Regions from separate parts of the Homo sapiens genome. Here region 2 is linked to region 1. Evidence: fine-mapped expression QTL. Tissue or cell type: coronary artery. Region 1 holds a variant in brackets; the other region holds the start of a gene. All regions are shown on one strand. Distances are between the middles of the regions.

Region 1 (8,181 bases):
ACCTTGAACTCCTGGGCTCAAGCAGTCCTCCTGCCTCGGCCTCCCAAAGCATTGAGATTACAATGAGCCACTGTCTGGCTATGTTGATTTATTGTTGAAGAAATAAAACTATTTTTTATAAATTTAGTGTAGCCTAAGTTTACAGTGTTTATAAAATCGACAGTAGTGCAGTGTCCTAAGTCTTCACATCTACTCAACACTCATTCACCGACTCACCCAGAGCAACTTCCAGTCCTGCAAGCTCCATTCATGATAAGTGCCCCATACAGGTGCACCATTTTTTAATCTTTTATATTGTGTTTTTACTGTACCTTTTCTATGTTCAGATATGTTTAGATACACAAGTACTTACCATTGTGTTACAATTGCCTACAGTATTCAGTACAGTAACATGCTGTACAGGTGTGTGGCCTAGGAGCAACAGGCTACACCATACAGCTCAGGTGTTTGGTAGGCTACATCAGCTAGGTGTGTGTAAGTGACTCTATGATGGTCACACAACGATGAAGTCACAATGATGACTCATTTCTCAGAATGTATCACCATCCTTAACATCATTAAACATTCATGTATTTACTGGATTCAGCAATATCTTTTGAACTGCTGTCCCCCAAATTACTTAATTATTCCCTTTTTTCTCTTAGGAAATGCTACAGTGAATATTTAAAATTCTATGTAATTATTAATCCCAAACCTTTGTGGATATAGAAATCAACATTTATATAGTCTGCATTTTACAAGTTATTTAAACATTTGTGTTGTTAAGCTGCTCAAAAGCCGGTTGGCAAGGTCTGCATTTTATGCACAGGAAAAAGGAGAAGATCATTCCATGTAAAGGAGATTCATCTGAAGACAAGCAGGATTGTGTACAAGTAGAGAGAAATGTGCTTTTTTATGATGTATCATGTATAAAGGCCTGTTCCCAAATTTCTGAAGCACATGGAAGTTCTGGTGTAAAAAGTATATCTAGTTAAGACAGCTGTAGGCTGGGAGCCTGTGAAAGGAAGATTTTGCTTGTTAATAGAATGACTGAGACTACATCATCCTGTGTAGAAACCAGGGAATAACACTTGTACTGTGTTGTGTTAAGAAAACAGGTTCTTTAATTAAGTGATGTACCTGAAATTTCAGGTAATGACTACAGCTCTCCTGAACACCCAGGAGGGCGGTGACACTGAGTCACAGGCAGAACTATGAAATTCCTTGTGAAACTCAACTTTCTGTTCTTCCAGCCTTTCCCCTCCCGCCCCTCGGCTCAGCCACAGGTGCTCATTAAACCTCGCCCAGGGAGCATACCTCCAAAGCTTTTTCACAGGCATGTGGCCCACCTTTGGATTCCGACCCTATGGTCCTGGGAAGTCTGCATTTGGAGCGTGTACCTGAAGGGTGTTAAGCACATTTAACCTCTGCTAAGATAATCAGACAGACACCCCTAGAAAGAGATATAGAAGTAAGGTGTTGACTATTCTGGGGTTTGTATTTCAGCAGGACCCCCAAAGTTTGAGCTGAAAGGACTAAGTTCTGTGGGGAGGTATCAGCCAGAGGTGGGGACCTCTTTTGGGATACCTGTGCCTTCCCACCGTGAGCCGCTGTGCCCTCTGCCTCTGCTGCAGGCCAGCCGTGCTGCATTCCATATGTAAAGCTGTGTCGTGCTTTCCTTCTTTCCCTCAGAATCCTCCACGTCTGTTGTGTGAGAACGACATTTCACTAAGGAGGACAGACAGTTAGCTTCTGTCAGAGAAGAATGTCAGAGCTCTTTCATTTTGTAGATGCTGCCTTTAGCTTGCTTTCTGTGTATGTTATGTTCTTCTACCCTTGGGATATTTTGACACCAGTGGCATTGTTTTCCATTTTCTCAGTGCCAGAGAAGCTGGGATGTTGTAGAAAATATTTGGTTTCAAGGTTAAAAAATGTTATTTCTTTTCTTTTTAGATCTTATCTAAGCTTTCTTTGCCTACCCGTGCCTGGGAACCAGCAATGAAGAAGAGTTTTGCTTTTGACAATGTTGGCTATGAAGGTGGTCTGGATGGCCTGGGCCCTTCTTCTCAGGTGGCCACCAGCACAGTCAGGATCTTGGGCATGACTTGCCAGTCATGTGTGAAGTCCATTGAGGACAGGATTTCCAATTTGAAAGGCATCATCAGCATGAAGGTTTCCCTGGAACAAGGCAGTGCCACTGTGAAATATGTGCCATCGGTTGTGTGCCTGCAACAGGTTTGCCATCAAATTGGGGACATGGGCTTCGAGGCCAGCATTGCAGAAGGAAAGGCAGCCTCCTGGCCCTCAAGGTCCTTGCCTGCCCAGGAGGCTGTGGTCAAGCTCCGGGTGGAGGGCATGACCTGCCAGTCCTGTGTCAGCTCCATTGAAGGCAAGGTCCGGAAACTGCAAGGAGTAGTGAGAGTCAAAGTCTCACTCAGCAACCAAGAGGCCGTCATCACTTATCAGCCTTATCTCATTCAGCCCGAAGACCTCAGGGACCATGTAAATGACATGGGATTTGAAGCTGCCATCAAGAGCAAAGTGGCTCCCTTAAGCCTGGGACCAATTGATATTGAGCGGTTACAAAGCACTAACCCAAAGAGACCTTTATCTTCTGCTAACCAGAATTTTAATAATTCTGAGACCTTGGGGCACCAAGGAAGCCATGTGGTCACCCTCCAACTGAGAATAGATGGAATGCATTGTAAGTCTTGCGTCTTGAATATTGAAGAAAATATTGGCCAGCTCCTAGGGGTTCAAAGTATTCAAGTGTCCTTGGAGAACAAAACTGCCCAAGTAAAGTATGACCCTTCTTGTACCAGCCCAGTGGCTCTGCAGAGGGCTATCGAGGCACTTCCACCTGGGAATTTTAAAGTTTCTCTTCCTGATGGAGCCGAAGGGAGTGGGACAGATCACAGGTCTTCCAGTTCTCATTCCCCTGGCTCCCCACCGAGAAACCAGGTCCAGGGCACATGCAGTACCACTCTGATTGCCATTGCCGGCATGACCTGTGCATCCTGTGTCCATTCCATTGAAGGCATGATCTCCCAACTGGAAGGGGTGCAGCAAATATCGGTGTCTTTGGCCGAAGGGACTGCAACAGTTCTTTATAATCCCTCTGTAATTAGCCCAGAAGAACTCAGAGCTGCTATAGAAGACATGGGATTTGAGGCTTCAGTCGTTTCTGGTACGTAGTGTGTTTGAGGCATGTCCTGAGCTTGTCTCCTTTTCTCTTTGTGTCTTATAGCTCCTGGATGGTGGTATAGGTGAGCCCTGCTCCCTGCCTCCCATGTCAACAGTGGAACAAAATCCTGCAAACTTTCCTTGCATGTTAAATTTGTTAAGATAGAGGAAATATAATCTCCAAGTGTCTAGATTTTGCTTTTCATGTAGTTGGGATTTTGTATTAGTCTGTTTTGTGTTGCTTATAACAGAATGGCTGAATTTGGGTAATTTATAAAGATATGGAATTTGTTTCTTATAGTTACTGAGAAGTCTAAGGTTGAGGGCCACATCTGGTGAGAGCCTTCTGCCAGTGGGGACTCCGGTGCCACAGGGCATCACATGGCAGGGGTGCTGAGCATGCTCACGTGGTTGCTTAGGTGGCTCTTCCTCTTTTTAGAAAGCCTCGATGCCACACCTGTGATAACCCATTAATCCATGAGTGGATTCCATTCATGAGGGTAGAACCCTCATGATCCAGTCACTTCTTAAAGCCCTCACCTTTTAACACTGCCACATTGGGGATTATGTTTCCAACACATGAAATTTGGGGGACACAGTCAAACCATGGCTGACTTGAATGCGAACCTCCTTGGATTTGGGCTTCTTTTCTGGAGAGAATTCTGATTCTGTATCCTGAAATAGAGCACTGTGGGACCATCCAGGCCCTTTTCTTACCAAGAGAACTATTATCACCTTCTCAAAAGATTTTACTGCTAAACAACAGAACCTTAGTCTCATCACCTAGAGACCATGCTGGTAAAAATGAGAGTTAAGGAAAGGATTTATAAATGATTTTTTTCTCCCTGTTTGATGAATATAAGAGAAGAGGTAAAGGTGAGGGAGCCACCAGGCTTTTATATTTTTTAATTAAAAAATTTTTTAATTTTTTTAGGGACACGGTCTTGCCCTGTTGTCCAAGATGGAGGATAGTGACATGATCATAGGTCACTGCATCCTTGAACCTTTGGGCTCAGGTGATCCTCGCACCTCAGCCTCCTGAGTAGCTGGGACTACAGGTGTGCACCACCACACCGGGCTCATTTTTTATTTTTATTTTTTTGTAGAGACGGAGTGTTGCTGTGTTTCCCAGGCTGGTCTTGAACTCTTGGCCTCTAGCAATCCTCCCGCCTCAGCCTCCCAAAGTGCTGGGATTGCAGGCGTGAGCCACTATGCTCAGCCACCATCATGGGTTTTAATCAGAGGAAGCACGAAGTCAGATTATATTTTAGAAGACTGGTGTGGTGTCACAGTACAGTGTCCATGGAGGCAATGAGACCACGTAGGAGGCCGGGTGAGAAAGAGGTGGGTTTGAAAGACATTCAGGAGGGCAGCTCCACCAAGCTTGGGGTCACCAAGAGGGGTGTGTGATGGGGAGGGCCATGGAGGAAAGGGGTAACTGGGATGAGCCTTTAGCTGAGATGCTGGAGGACAGTGGGATAGAAGGGCCTTGAATTTTGAGGGAGAGTGTGGGGCCGGAAATGCAGA[G/ATTGAG]TGTGGGAAGATGACAGAGACCTAGAAAGAGTGATTGTGAGATGGGAAAGAATTAGAGGGAGGAGGAGGGGTCTCCTAGTCACCCTGGACATAATGCGAGCCGCAGAGGCCAAGGTCTGAATCGTATCTTCGCGGGTTAACTAGGGGAGGCCATTGGAGGCCTCGGCAGCTGCTTCAGGACCCTGGGAAGGTGGGAGCCCAGCTTGGCTGCTGGTAAGGGTGGAGACCACTAGTAGCTTAGATTAGGGATAAAGAGGATGATAGGTGAGTGGAGATGGTTGAGAGAAATGCTGAAGATAAGGAGGGAAGGGGCACATGTTGTGAGGGGCAGCTGTGTGGGTGGTGTGTTGTAACCGATTAGGTCCCAGACATGGGCCCTGCCCGTGCGTGTCTCTGTGGACTGGACCAGGACATGGCTGGCTTCCTCAGCCTTTTGGCTGGAGCTCGGTACTGTAGGGAGCAGCGGGCCCAACACTAAGAAGAGCTGCTTTCAGTGGCGTGGGCAAGCCCACTGGCAGCTCAGTGCTCAGGGATGGCTGAACTTTGGTTTCCCACATCATTTCCTGTGGTCACTGAGATAAAGTTTGTGTCCTTGAAAAGTTCACTCAGCTGTGAGTCTTTGCTGCCTCCCCTCTGTGCCCACAGCACACACCTACTGCTGAAGGGAGTGGGCATTCATGTGGAGTGGCCTGGCCCCATTTTGTGCTTTGTCTTTTGTATCAAGTTTCAGGAAGGAGTTTCTTTAAAACAAAAATCAATAAGGAAAACACAATAGAACAGTAAATCCTGTACGCAATAGGTAAGAAATATAGTATAAGGTAAACATCTGCCTGTTTTTGTGTGATGTTTAAAGTCTTTCAACCGTGCAATCAGGTTATTAGTGGTAAAAAGAAATTAGCACTGAACTTACATATTACAGAATAATTGGATTTGATTAAATAAACCTAGAAAGAAAAGAATAGTGATTTTTTTAATTGGGCAGGATTATGAGAATTTTATTTAGCCGAAGAGGTATTTAGGGTATCAGACTTAGCAAATAAAAATATAGGACATCTACTTAAATTTTAATTTTTCATAAACAATGAATGGTTTTTTAGTATAAACATGTCCAGCTCAATATTCATGACATATGTATAGTAAAAATTATTTGTTGTTTGTCTGAGAATCAAATTTAACTGGATGTCCTGTATTTTACCTGGCAACTTTAATTTGGAATAAACCATTAGTGTGCCAGTTTGTATTTGAAGAGCCCTTCTTGATTGATTAGGAGCTCCTTGAGGACAGCCTTGCGGCCAGCGTGATTTGTTTCTCCTTGGACTCAATAGCACCCCGCATGCAGTAAGTATTCCTGAAGGAAATGAAAGATAAGGTGAAGTTACGGGGTAGCTCAGTGGAAGGATTTAATATAGAGAACTATTTACAAAGGTATTAGAGAGCTGGAAATCCAAATAGGCAATGGGAAGAACCCCAGAGATTAACAACAGCAGGGAGCTCTGTCCTCCAGGATGGCTGAGGGACAAGGTAGTTACTGGAGCCCAGGGGCTGAGGCTGCTCGGTGGGAGCCGGGACAATGAACCCTCACCAAGAGCCCTGAAACCTCTTGTTCTGAAAAACATATTATTTGCTCTTCTAATTTGAATATTTTCTGACATTTTATCCTAGAAAGCTGTTCTACTAACCCTCTTGGAAACCACAGTGCTGGGAATTCCATGGTGCAAACTACAGATGGTACACCTACATCTGTGCAGGAAGTGGCTCCCCACACTGGGAGGCTCCCTGCAAACCATGCCCCGGACATCTTGGCAAAGTCCCCACAATCAACCAGAGCAGTGGCACCGCAGAAGTGCTTCTTACAGATCAAAGGCATGACCTGTGCATCCTGTGTGTCTAACATAGAAAGGAATCTGCAGAAAGAAGCTGGTAAGAGATGAACGCCCATGTTGAACTTAGGAATGCTGCGTATAGACCTCGTATTCTCCCTTCAGAATACCCAGCAACTGTGTTTATCAGTAGCCCTGATAACCAGGTAGCAAGTTCATTATATAGCATAAATGTTTGTCTAATGTCCTTGTATAACTGGCATTGTGTTCTTTAAGAAGTATTTAGTTTGAGATAAAATATATCTCTGAGTAAGTTAGCCATTGAAAATCCAGTTTAAAGGTCATAGTACCTTTTGTGGATAGACTTCTCAGTTAGGTTGTACTAGTATTATTCCATATTTTGTTCCCTCCCATCCCATCAACCCCTTACTATAAAATGAATAAATAACCTGCATTTTGTATAGAAGTTCCAATTTCAAATATTCTTTCTTGTTGTTCCTGTAAACCAGAGAGTGTTTGTAGGAACAACAGGACAGAAATATGTGGAAATGTCAAAGTTTTGTCCTCCAGAATGCATTTCCAATACTTTTAAACCTGAAAGTACAATAAAATTCGGATCCATTTATTTGTTTGGAAAATCTCTTAACCATGACTCTACCTTGCCACCAGAATCACTTTCTCTTTTCTTACCCCAGTGATGTGTCTTTTTACTTGAACTCCCTGGCCCTTAGAATCAGCCCTGAATTCAGATGACATGTTTTTCCAGCCTCTTGTTCACTATGCATTATAGCTTCCTGCAGCTCTAGAGTGACTGTTAGCAGATGGAGGTGTTAATAGGAGATCCCTTGTTATCCATGGTCTGACTGCTCATAAAATTAGCCTATAATCTCCTATAGCCTATGTTTCTGTTCCTGACTTGAATCCTCATTTTTATCCTATGTGGCATCCTTTCTGAAGCACTTCCTTCCTTTCATTTATTTGAACGAGGCTTTTTTTCCCATGTAAAACTAACACAATAGTGTTAGCAAGATTGTGGGATTTCTTTTTCATACCTGAAAGTCATTAGAAACTATAAAAGAGTAAGGAAAACCACTTTTGAAAATTCTTTATTTTTTCCTTGTATGAAAGTATCTGGAGAAAAGGAGAAAAAAAAAAAAGGATATCCTTCCGGTAACAGCAGTCAATAACTGCAGACCACATTCCTTATTTCATTGGTGTCTTCTAAAGCCTGAGTGAGAATGTGTCCATGGGCAGGCAGCATGAGCATCACCTGGGAGCTGGATGGACCTGCAGACTCTCAAACCTCATCCTAGACCGACTAGTCAGAAGCTCTATTTTAACAAGGTCCTCGGGTGATTCATATGTCCATTAAAGTTTGAGAAGCATTGTTCTTCTAGAATAGTGGTTGTCAGACTTCCCTGTACATTAGGATCACCTGGGGAGCTTTTTTTTTTTAAAAAAAAATGATGCCTTGGGAGGCCAAGGCGAGCGGATCACAAGGTCAGGAGTTCAAGACCAGCTTGACCAACATGGTGAAACCCCATCTCTACTAAAAATACAAAAATTAGCTGGGCATGGTGGCACGCACCTGTAACCCCAGCTACTCAGGAGGCTGAGGCAGGAGAATCACTTGAACCCTGGAGGCAGAGGTTGCAGTGAGCCGAGATCATGC
Region 2 (8,181 bases), 40 kb before region 1:
TTTCAGCATTAACCCATATGTCCACAGTCCAAAGTCTCATCCGAGACAAGGCAAGTCCCTTCTGCCTATGAGCCTGTAAAATCAAAAGTAAGCTAGTTACTTCCCAGATACAATGGGAGTACAGGTATTGGGTAAGTACAGCTGTTCCAAATGGGAGAAATTGGCCAAAACAAGGGGGTTACAGGGCCCATGCAAGTCCAAAATCCAGTGGGGCAGTCAAATTTTTAAAGCTCCAAAATGACCTCCTTTGACTCCAGGTCTCACATCCAGGTCATGCTTAAGCAAGAGGTGGGTTCCCATGGTCTTGAGCAGCTCTGCCCCTGTAGATTTGCAGGGTACAGCCTCCCTCCTGGCTGCTTTCATGGGCCGGCGTTGAGTGTCTGAGGTTTTTCCAGGCACACGGTGCAAGCTGTCAGTGGATCTACCACTCTGGGGTATGGAGGACGGTGGCCCTCTTCTCGCAGCTCCACTAGGCAGTGCCCCAGTAGGGACTCTGTGTGGGGGCTCCAACCCCACATTTCCCTTCTGCACTGCCCTGGCAGAGGTTCTCCATGAGGGCCCTGCCCCGGTGGCAAACTTTTGCCTGGGCATCCAGGCGTTTCTATACATCTTCTGCAATCTAGGTAGAGGTTCCCAAATTTCCATTCTTGACTTCTGTGCACCCGCAGGCTCAACACCATGTGAAGCTACCATGGCTTGGGGCTTTCACCCTCTGAAGCCACAGCACTAGCTCTGCATTGGCCCCTTTCAGCCACGGCTGGAGCAGCTGGGACACAGGGTACCAAGTCCCTAGGCTGCACACAGCACAGGGCCCCTGCACCTGGCCCACAAAACCACTTTTTCCTCCTGGGCCTCCAGGCCTGCCATGAGAGAGGCTGCCATGAAGGTCTCCGACATTGCCTGGAGACATTTTCCCCCATGGTCTTCAGGATTAACATTAGGCTCCTTGCTACTTTTGAAAATTTCTGCAGCCAGCTTGAATTTCTCCTAAAAAAATGGGTCTTTCTTTTCTACTGCATTGTCAGGCTGCAAATTTTCTGAACTTTTATGCTCTGTTCCGCTTTTAAAATGGAATGCTTTTAAGAGCACCCAAGTCACTTCTTGAATTCTTTGCTGCTTAGAAATTTCTTACACCAGATACCCTAAATCATCTCTTTCAAGTTCAAAGTTCCACAAATCTCTAGGGCAGGGGCAAAATGCCTCTAGTACCTTTGCTAAAACATAAGAGGAGTCACCTTTCTCCAGTTCCCAACAAGTTCTTCATCTCCATCTGAGACCACCTCAGCCTGGATTTCGTTGTCCATATCACTATCCGCATTTTGTTCAAAGCCATTCAACAAGTCTCTAGGATGTTCCAAACTTTCCCACATTTTCCTGGCTTCTTCTGAGCCCTCCAAACTGTTCCAGCCTCTGCCTGTTGCCCAGTTCCAAAGTCGCTTCCACATTTTTGGGTATCTCTTCAGCAGCACCCCACTCTACTGGTACTAATTTATGGTACCAAGTTCATTTTCACGCTGCTGATAAAGACATACTCGAAACTGGGAACAAAAATAGGTTTAATTGGATTTACAGTTCCACATGGCTATGAGGCCTCAGAATCATGGCGGGAGGCATAAGGCACTTCTTACATGGTGGCAGCAAGAGAAAAATCAGAAAGAAGCAAAAGCAGAAACCCCTGATAAACCCCATCAGATCTCGTGAACTTACTCACTATCACGAGAATAGCATGGGAAAGATTGGCCCCCATGATTCAATTACCTCCCCCTGGATCCCTCCCACAACATGTGGGCATTCTGGGAGATAAAATTCAACTTGAGGTTTGGGTGGGGTCACGGCCAAACCATATCACATAGTTTTCACTGCCCACATGAAAACATACAAATTCATCAGAAAAGTAAATTTTGCTTTTTTTAGATACAGGGTCTCACTCTGTCACCCAGGCTGAAGTGCAGTGGTGCAATCATAGCAATCACTGCAGCCCCAAACTCCTTGGCTCAAGCGATCCTCCTGCCTCAGACTCCTGAGAAGCTGGAACTACAGGTGCATGCCACCACACCCAGCTAATTAAAAAAATGTTTTTTGTAGAAATAGGGTTTTGCTATGTTGCCCAGGCTGGTCTCAAACTCTTGGCCTCAAGTAATCCTCCTGCCTTGGCCTTCCAAAGCATTGAGATTACAGGCATGAGCTGCTGCACCTGGCCAGAAGTAAATATTTTATTGATATTTAGTTTTGACATAAAGTTCTCATGTGGGATTTCCTATTGTGAACAAATCCTCATTTGTTCCTATTGTGAACAAATCTCATGTGGGATTTCCTACTGTGTACTTGAAGAGGTATTTGACTCTATTTGAAATCCCACATGAGCACTTTATTTCAAAGCTGAAATAATTGGTCTAAAATAATTTGGTCTTTATATTCTTTATACACCTTTATACTCTTAAAAATTTTACTGAGGATACAATAGAGCTTTTGTTTACATCAGAGTTTCTCATCCTTGACACTACTGACATTTTGGACCAAATAATTATTTGTTGCGGAGGTTGTCCTATGTATTATATTTAGTAGCATCTTTGGTCTTGACCCACTTAGATGCCAGTAGCACCCTCCCAATCAAAATTATCAGTTGGGCATGGTGGCTCATGCCTGTAATCCCAACATTTTGGGAGGCTGAGGTGGGAGGATTGCTTGAGCCCAGGAGTTCAAGGCTGTAGTAAGCTATGATCATGCCACTGCACTCCAGCCTGGGCAACAGAGCAAGACTCTTATCTCTAAAAAAAAAATTAAAAAAAAAAAGCCCTCCAGATATTGCCAAATGCCAAATGTCTTGCGAAGGGCAAAAATCACCCCTGGTTGAGAACCAGTGGTTTACACTGCTTATATCTACCAATATTTAGCATATTAGAAATGAAAACTAAAGAACTTTAAACTTTTTATGAATTCATTTGAAAATAAAAATTCTTTCATAACACATTAACATATTTTTATTAAAAAACTATCTTTTCCAAACCAAAAAAAGAAATTTAGCAAGAAGGGTGCCAATGATTTACACTTTTTGCAAATCTTTTTAATGTCTGGCTTAACGTGAAACCAGATAGTGGCTCCTCCTTTCTGTTTCTGCATTCAATCTAGTGATATGTTGTTTTTGTTGAAGTATATGAAGAAAATTCAGGCTAACTTAGACATGTAGTAGGAAAAGGGAGTATATTTTAATATATATTGATCTTATGTTTAAAATATATTTAACTTTTCAGCTAGTTACAGATATTCTTCTCTGATGCTAGACCACATTTGACAAGTTATGCAGTTTCTTAATGTCAGTTGCAATACAGACTCTGAAACCCTATCAATGACCTTTTCACACTGTTAATTAAAATCCACTATCACTTAGTTTTATCCGCTATCACTTTTGCACTTATCAACATAGTAAAATAGGCAAATATTACATTAATGTTATTATAAAAACAGATTTGTTGAGGATCCATTGAAGGGCCTTGGGACCTGCATGGTCCATGGAGCACAATTTGAGAACCACTGCCTTAAAGGATGAACAGAGTCTGACAAAAGTGGTAAGATTTATCATTTATTTAACATTTGGAATATATGAATTCATAAAAGCAACACTACAGAGGACAGTTTGCTTTCTCAGGACACTCTTTCAAAAGCTTATTTAAAATGCAGCTGACCCATATAATGTAAAGGTTTTTCTGGCAATTCCTTCAAATAATTTAGGTGGGAAAATTCATGTGACAAGCTTTTCAAACTGAACTATTAAACATTTAACTTAAAAGCTGCATAATAACTAAAGTTAAACCTGTCCTTTAAGTCTGGTTAGTGAGTTTATTTAAACATTATAATGTAAAGCACTGAGGAATATTACGTATGACAGGGAAGAACCAAAAGGCTCTGATAACAGACTTTCTCATTCAAAATGTTTAAAGTAATGATTACAGAATTTGAAGTAGAGTGGACAAAAACGAAGAAGAAATGCCTGAACTTTTGAAAGAATTAGGTATATACTGCTATTCAGGAAGCTATGGTGTTAATTATAAATTTTCAGCCTGAACAAAAATATGTAGGTGGTAAAAAAACTAGGTAGGTAGAATATACTAGGCCTTCTGTTTTATTAGTGGAGGGCAAGGCATTTAAAATACAGTAGTACTACAACAACAAAGGTGGAAAAAAGCCTGGGAGTTTTTTCACCAAAATGTTAACAGTGGCTATCTCCGGATGGTAGCATTCCTGGGGTTTTTTCCTTTTACTTATCTATTTTCTAATTTTTCTAGAAGAAACAGCATATACACGTAATACAAATAAAATAATATTTTATGTAACTTCTTACATCATAAAAATTAAAGTAACAGATTATCAAAAAGCAGAGGATTCAACATAAGCTTTATATTTAAGTGACGTGTTAACAATGGCAGTTTTGGTGAGTTTAAGAGTAGAAACTAAGATGAGAAGGAAGATCCGGTTTCTTCTTTACCGAAAAGAGACATGATAGATTGGAAAATGTCTCGTGGCTCAATCGTAAAGAAAAATAAGGAATGAATATGAATAATTTATGACAGACTAACTGGAGTGTGAAAGGGAAAAAAAAAGCTGAAGCAGGGAAGGGAACTCGACCCCTCGGCCAACAGTGAAGCAGAAGAAAACGCGGTAAATTGAGTCTTTAAGACCTAGTCTATTCCAGTCTATATAGAAGACCCCCAAGAAAAAGAAAGACTGCTCATTGGCCTGAGAAATTACCTTAGATTCATGACAAGGAAGGCCATTTGCCCGCAAAATTTAGCTACACTGGACGGGCAAGTACCCCTACAGAAGAGAAAACGTCTGTGAGCCCACACGACCGGCTGCTCACCTCAACAACTTGCACAGGCACCAGCTCCTTTCGCCGGCCGCCATCTTCCGCCGACCCCCGAACTCAGGAAACGCTTCACTTTCCTTTTCCCTATTGGCTCCTGAGAAAGCAAGCCGTGCTCGCCCCGCCCCCACGGGCCAATTGTGCGTTACTATTGGTTACTGGTAGCCGCTTCCCACGGCCTTCCAGCCAATAGAATATGCCGAGGCGTAGACTAGTGTTCGGCGTGGCGCACACGGCTCCCGCCCCCGTGGGCGGGACAGCAGTGGGGGGTTGGGCTGAGGAGGGCGTGGCCTGTGATTGACAGCCGTCGCTCCCTCCCTCGGCCACCTCCCCCACTAGAAGCCCCCGCCTGGGCGCCTGCGCCCCCGTTCCCGGCCCAAAGCCCGCCGCCCGTTGGAGGCCATTGGCTGGCCTTTGCGCACAGCGGATCGATTTTCCAGGTGCGGAGTTCACTCTTGCCGCGGTTGCTTCCTTTGGGACCCACGGCGTCCGGCAGCCAGGCGCAGAGTCCGAGGAGGGGGCAGCGCAGAGCGGACCCGACGCGGCGCCGCCGGGCACCTTCCCCGCAGGCGGTGGGTGAGCCCTGGGAGCTGAGTCTGCGGCCCGGCTCTGCGCAGCTCACCTGCCCTCCCGCTCCCGCACACGCGTGAGATCCCAGTACAGTGTCGGAGCGCACCAGCGCGAGGTGGCCGAGACCGCGGAGGAGGACAGGCCTCCGCCCTGCGGCGCCGGCACGGCAGAGGACATTGTGGCACTGGCACGGCAGAGAACACTGTGGCACCGGCGGGGCCGGCAGTTCCAGGGTGGGCACTCCCAGCCACCTGGGGAGTGGGCGAGGGTCCGAGGCCCACTCTCCCCTCACGCTCTCATCCCCGTGCCCCCAGGTCGGGAGGACGGCGGCGCGCAACTTTGAATCATCCGTGTGAAGAGGGCTGCGGCTTCCCCGGTCCCAAATGAAGGGGCGGTTCCCGGACCCCTGTTTGCTTTAGAGCCGAGCCGCGCCGATGCCCTCACACTCTGCGCCTCCTCTCCCGGGACTTTAACACCCCGCTCTCCTCCACCGACCAGGTGACCTTTTGCTCTGAGCCAGATCAGAGAAGAATTCGGTGTCCGTGCGGGACGATGCCTGAGCAGGAGAGACAGATCACAGCCAGAGAAGGGGCCAGTCGGAAAGTGAGTTTTGTTCCCCCGCGTCCGCGCAGCGTGCTCACTCCCACCAGGAGGATTTTCCTCCCCGCGTTCGGCGCTTACTCGCCCCCAGGGGGTGCGCAGGGAAGGCCGAGCCAGACCCCAGCTCCAGGGATGTCTTGGCGTGGGAGAAAAGGACCCTTTAGAAAAAGTGTGCCGTCAACTGATGTTTGGGAGCAATGGAAAACCCCGCACCTCAAAATTCATCTTTATGCTTTTAAGGGGTCTGATGCTGGAGAGATAAAGTGAGCGTCGAGTTGCTGTGCTAGAGCCCTAATGGCTCAAAACGATGAAGTTAGTTACCTGGAGAAGTTACTCAGAGCCTGGTGCTTGGACCAGATATGGTATATCGAGGTCCTGGAACTTTTATAACTGTTTTAAATTCATTTTAATTGTACAAGTAATACATTAAGACAGTCTTTTAAAAATGGAAACAGCACAGAAATATTTTGCACAAAAAGCAGATCTATTTTTCAGTCTTTTTCTATTCACGTACATATGTCTTCATTCGGCAAATATTTATTGAGAACTTTCTATGTTTCAGGCACACAGTGTTGAGTTGATACAGTGGTTAACAAGACATGTATCTATATGTAATATGCACACATTCAGAGAAATCTTTAGGTTTCATTTGTATGAGGTGTTAAAATTTTTGTTTTACCTAAATGAGATCACTGTATGTGCATTCTCTTTTTTCAGTTTAACGATATATCTTAGAGATTGTTTCACTAACTGTCTAATTCAGTGCAACCTCTGCACAGTTTGGACGCATCATAGTTTATTCATGGTTTCCTAGTGGTGGACGTTCTGTTTGCTACTTTTTTTCTCTCTCTCTTGCAAGTGAACATCTTTGTACATGATTTTTAATGCTGACACTATTTCTTTAGGATAGATACTTAGGCCTGGATTGCTGGACAGAACAGTAGGCTGTTTCTTTTCCACAGATTTCTGAAACTAATTCACTGACGTTGCTGGGTGCCCTTTAGTAGTGAATTCATCTAGGCTCCGGTGATACAGAAATGAAAACTAACGGATTAGTGGACAGACAGAGAGAGGCTGGTTAGTAGGTGGTTTGTAGGGTATGATGACTATGCATTTGATAGGAGTATGAAGAAATGTTGGGAGGGGTGGCTTGTACAGAGGAGATTTCAACTTCCTACAGTGTCCCCACCTAGAGAAAGAAATCATTATCCTTCCAAATCAAGCTCAAGACCTGCCACCTCCTTGAAACGTTCTGTAACTGCTCCTGCCCATGTTGACCTGTCTTCTGGAATCCTCTGATAATAGCGTTGACCAGCGTTATTGAGCTTACTGTGTGCTGGGCATTGTGTTAGGCACTCATATCCCTCTATGTGCACTCTCGCGTTTAATCCTCACAAAAACCCTTTGATGTAGGTATTATATCTTGTTATCAACATTTATTCAACAAATTTTTTTGTGTGTACTATGTGCTCAAACACATAGTACTCAAAGTTTTAGACACTGGGGATTTAGGTAGGACCGAGACCTTGCCCTCATGAATTTACATCCTAGTTGGAGATAGGAAAAAAAAAGGGATAAACAAATGTATAGCGTAGGAGTTAAGGGAAAACTTTTGTGCCCCGTGAAGCGTCACTGAAAAATCAACTGACAAATGGCAGATTAATAGGAGAGAAGGCATACACATTTACTAACGTGCCGTGAGAGTCTTACAACATAAGATCTCAAAGGAAGGCAAGGTGGTTGCCACAATTATACTATCCTGAGGTTACAGAAAGTGTGGGGGCTCTAAGCTTGGCCAAAAACAGGTTATGGTTGTAAATCAGGTTATAGGAGGGAGAGAAGAGGAGACCTGGCTAGCAAAGGTGGTCTTATGTAGATGAAACCTCACAGGTAGCAGCCCTCAGGGAGAAGAAATGTTTCAGACCTTGAAGGTGCCAAATTCAGCTAATCTCACCCAGATCCAGACAAGGAAGGGCCCTCTGAGAAAAACTGGCTGCGTCAATGGAGGTTCTCAACAGATGCTCATCTCCCTCACAGTAGGACTACTTTTGTCTGTAGGCCCTCTGAACGGCCATCTCAAAATATTTCCAATAAGTCTGTTTTGAGGTGAAATGTTTTAGTTTCCTTCAATAGCTTTATTTCAGGTACTA

Direction of the effects. Positions count from the first base shown, and alleles are read on the strand shown. Sizes are in standard deviations (SD) of each study's normalised expression.
With allele G in place of ATTGAG in region 1, the expression in coronary artery of the gene that starts at base 4,923 in region 2 is higher (small effect, 0.23 SD a copy in GTEx).

What was found. PIP is the estimated chance that this variant, and not a neighbour inherited with it, causes the effect.
Region 2: it holds the start of ALG11, and the variant in region 1 is fine-mapped to the expression of ALG11 in coronary artery (GTEx, PIP 0.91).

What each region holds. Positions count from the first base shown.
Region 1 is chr13:51,968,920-51,977,100 of GRCh38, reverse strand. It overlaps ATP7B (ATPase copper transporting beta), which reads left to right. Exons shown (of 21, transcript NM_000053.4): 2 at 1,933-3,166; 3 at 6,352-6,609. Among named protein-coding and RNA genes, the nearest start is that of ATP7B, 38 kb to the left of the region's middle. The variant G/ATTGAG (reference allele first, on the strand shown) is at 4,690.
Region 2 is chr13:52,009,140-52,017,320 of GRCh38, reverse strand. It overlaps ALG11 (ALG11 alpha-1,2-mannosyltransferase), which reads right to left and starts at 4,923. Exons shown (of 4, transcript NM_001004127.3): 1 at 4,859-4,923. The coding sequence starts at 4,902. It overlaps ATP7B (ATPase copper transporting beta), which reads left to right and starts at 5,871. Exons shown (of 21, transcript NM_000053.4): 1 at 5,871-6,034. The coding sequence starts at 5,984. RefSeq lists enhancers at 4,665-4,754, 4,805-4,934 and silencers at 5,055-5,154, 5,165-5,274, 5,325-5,664.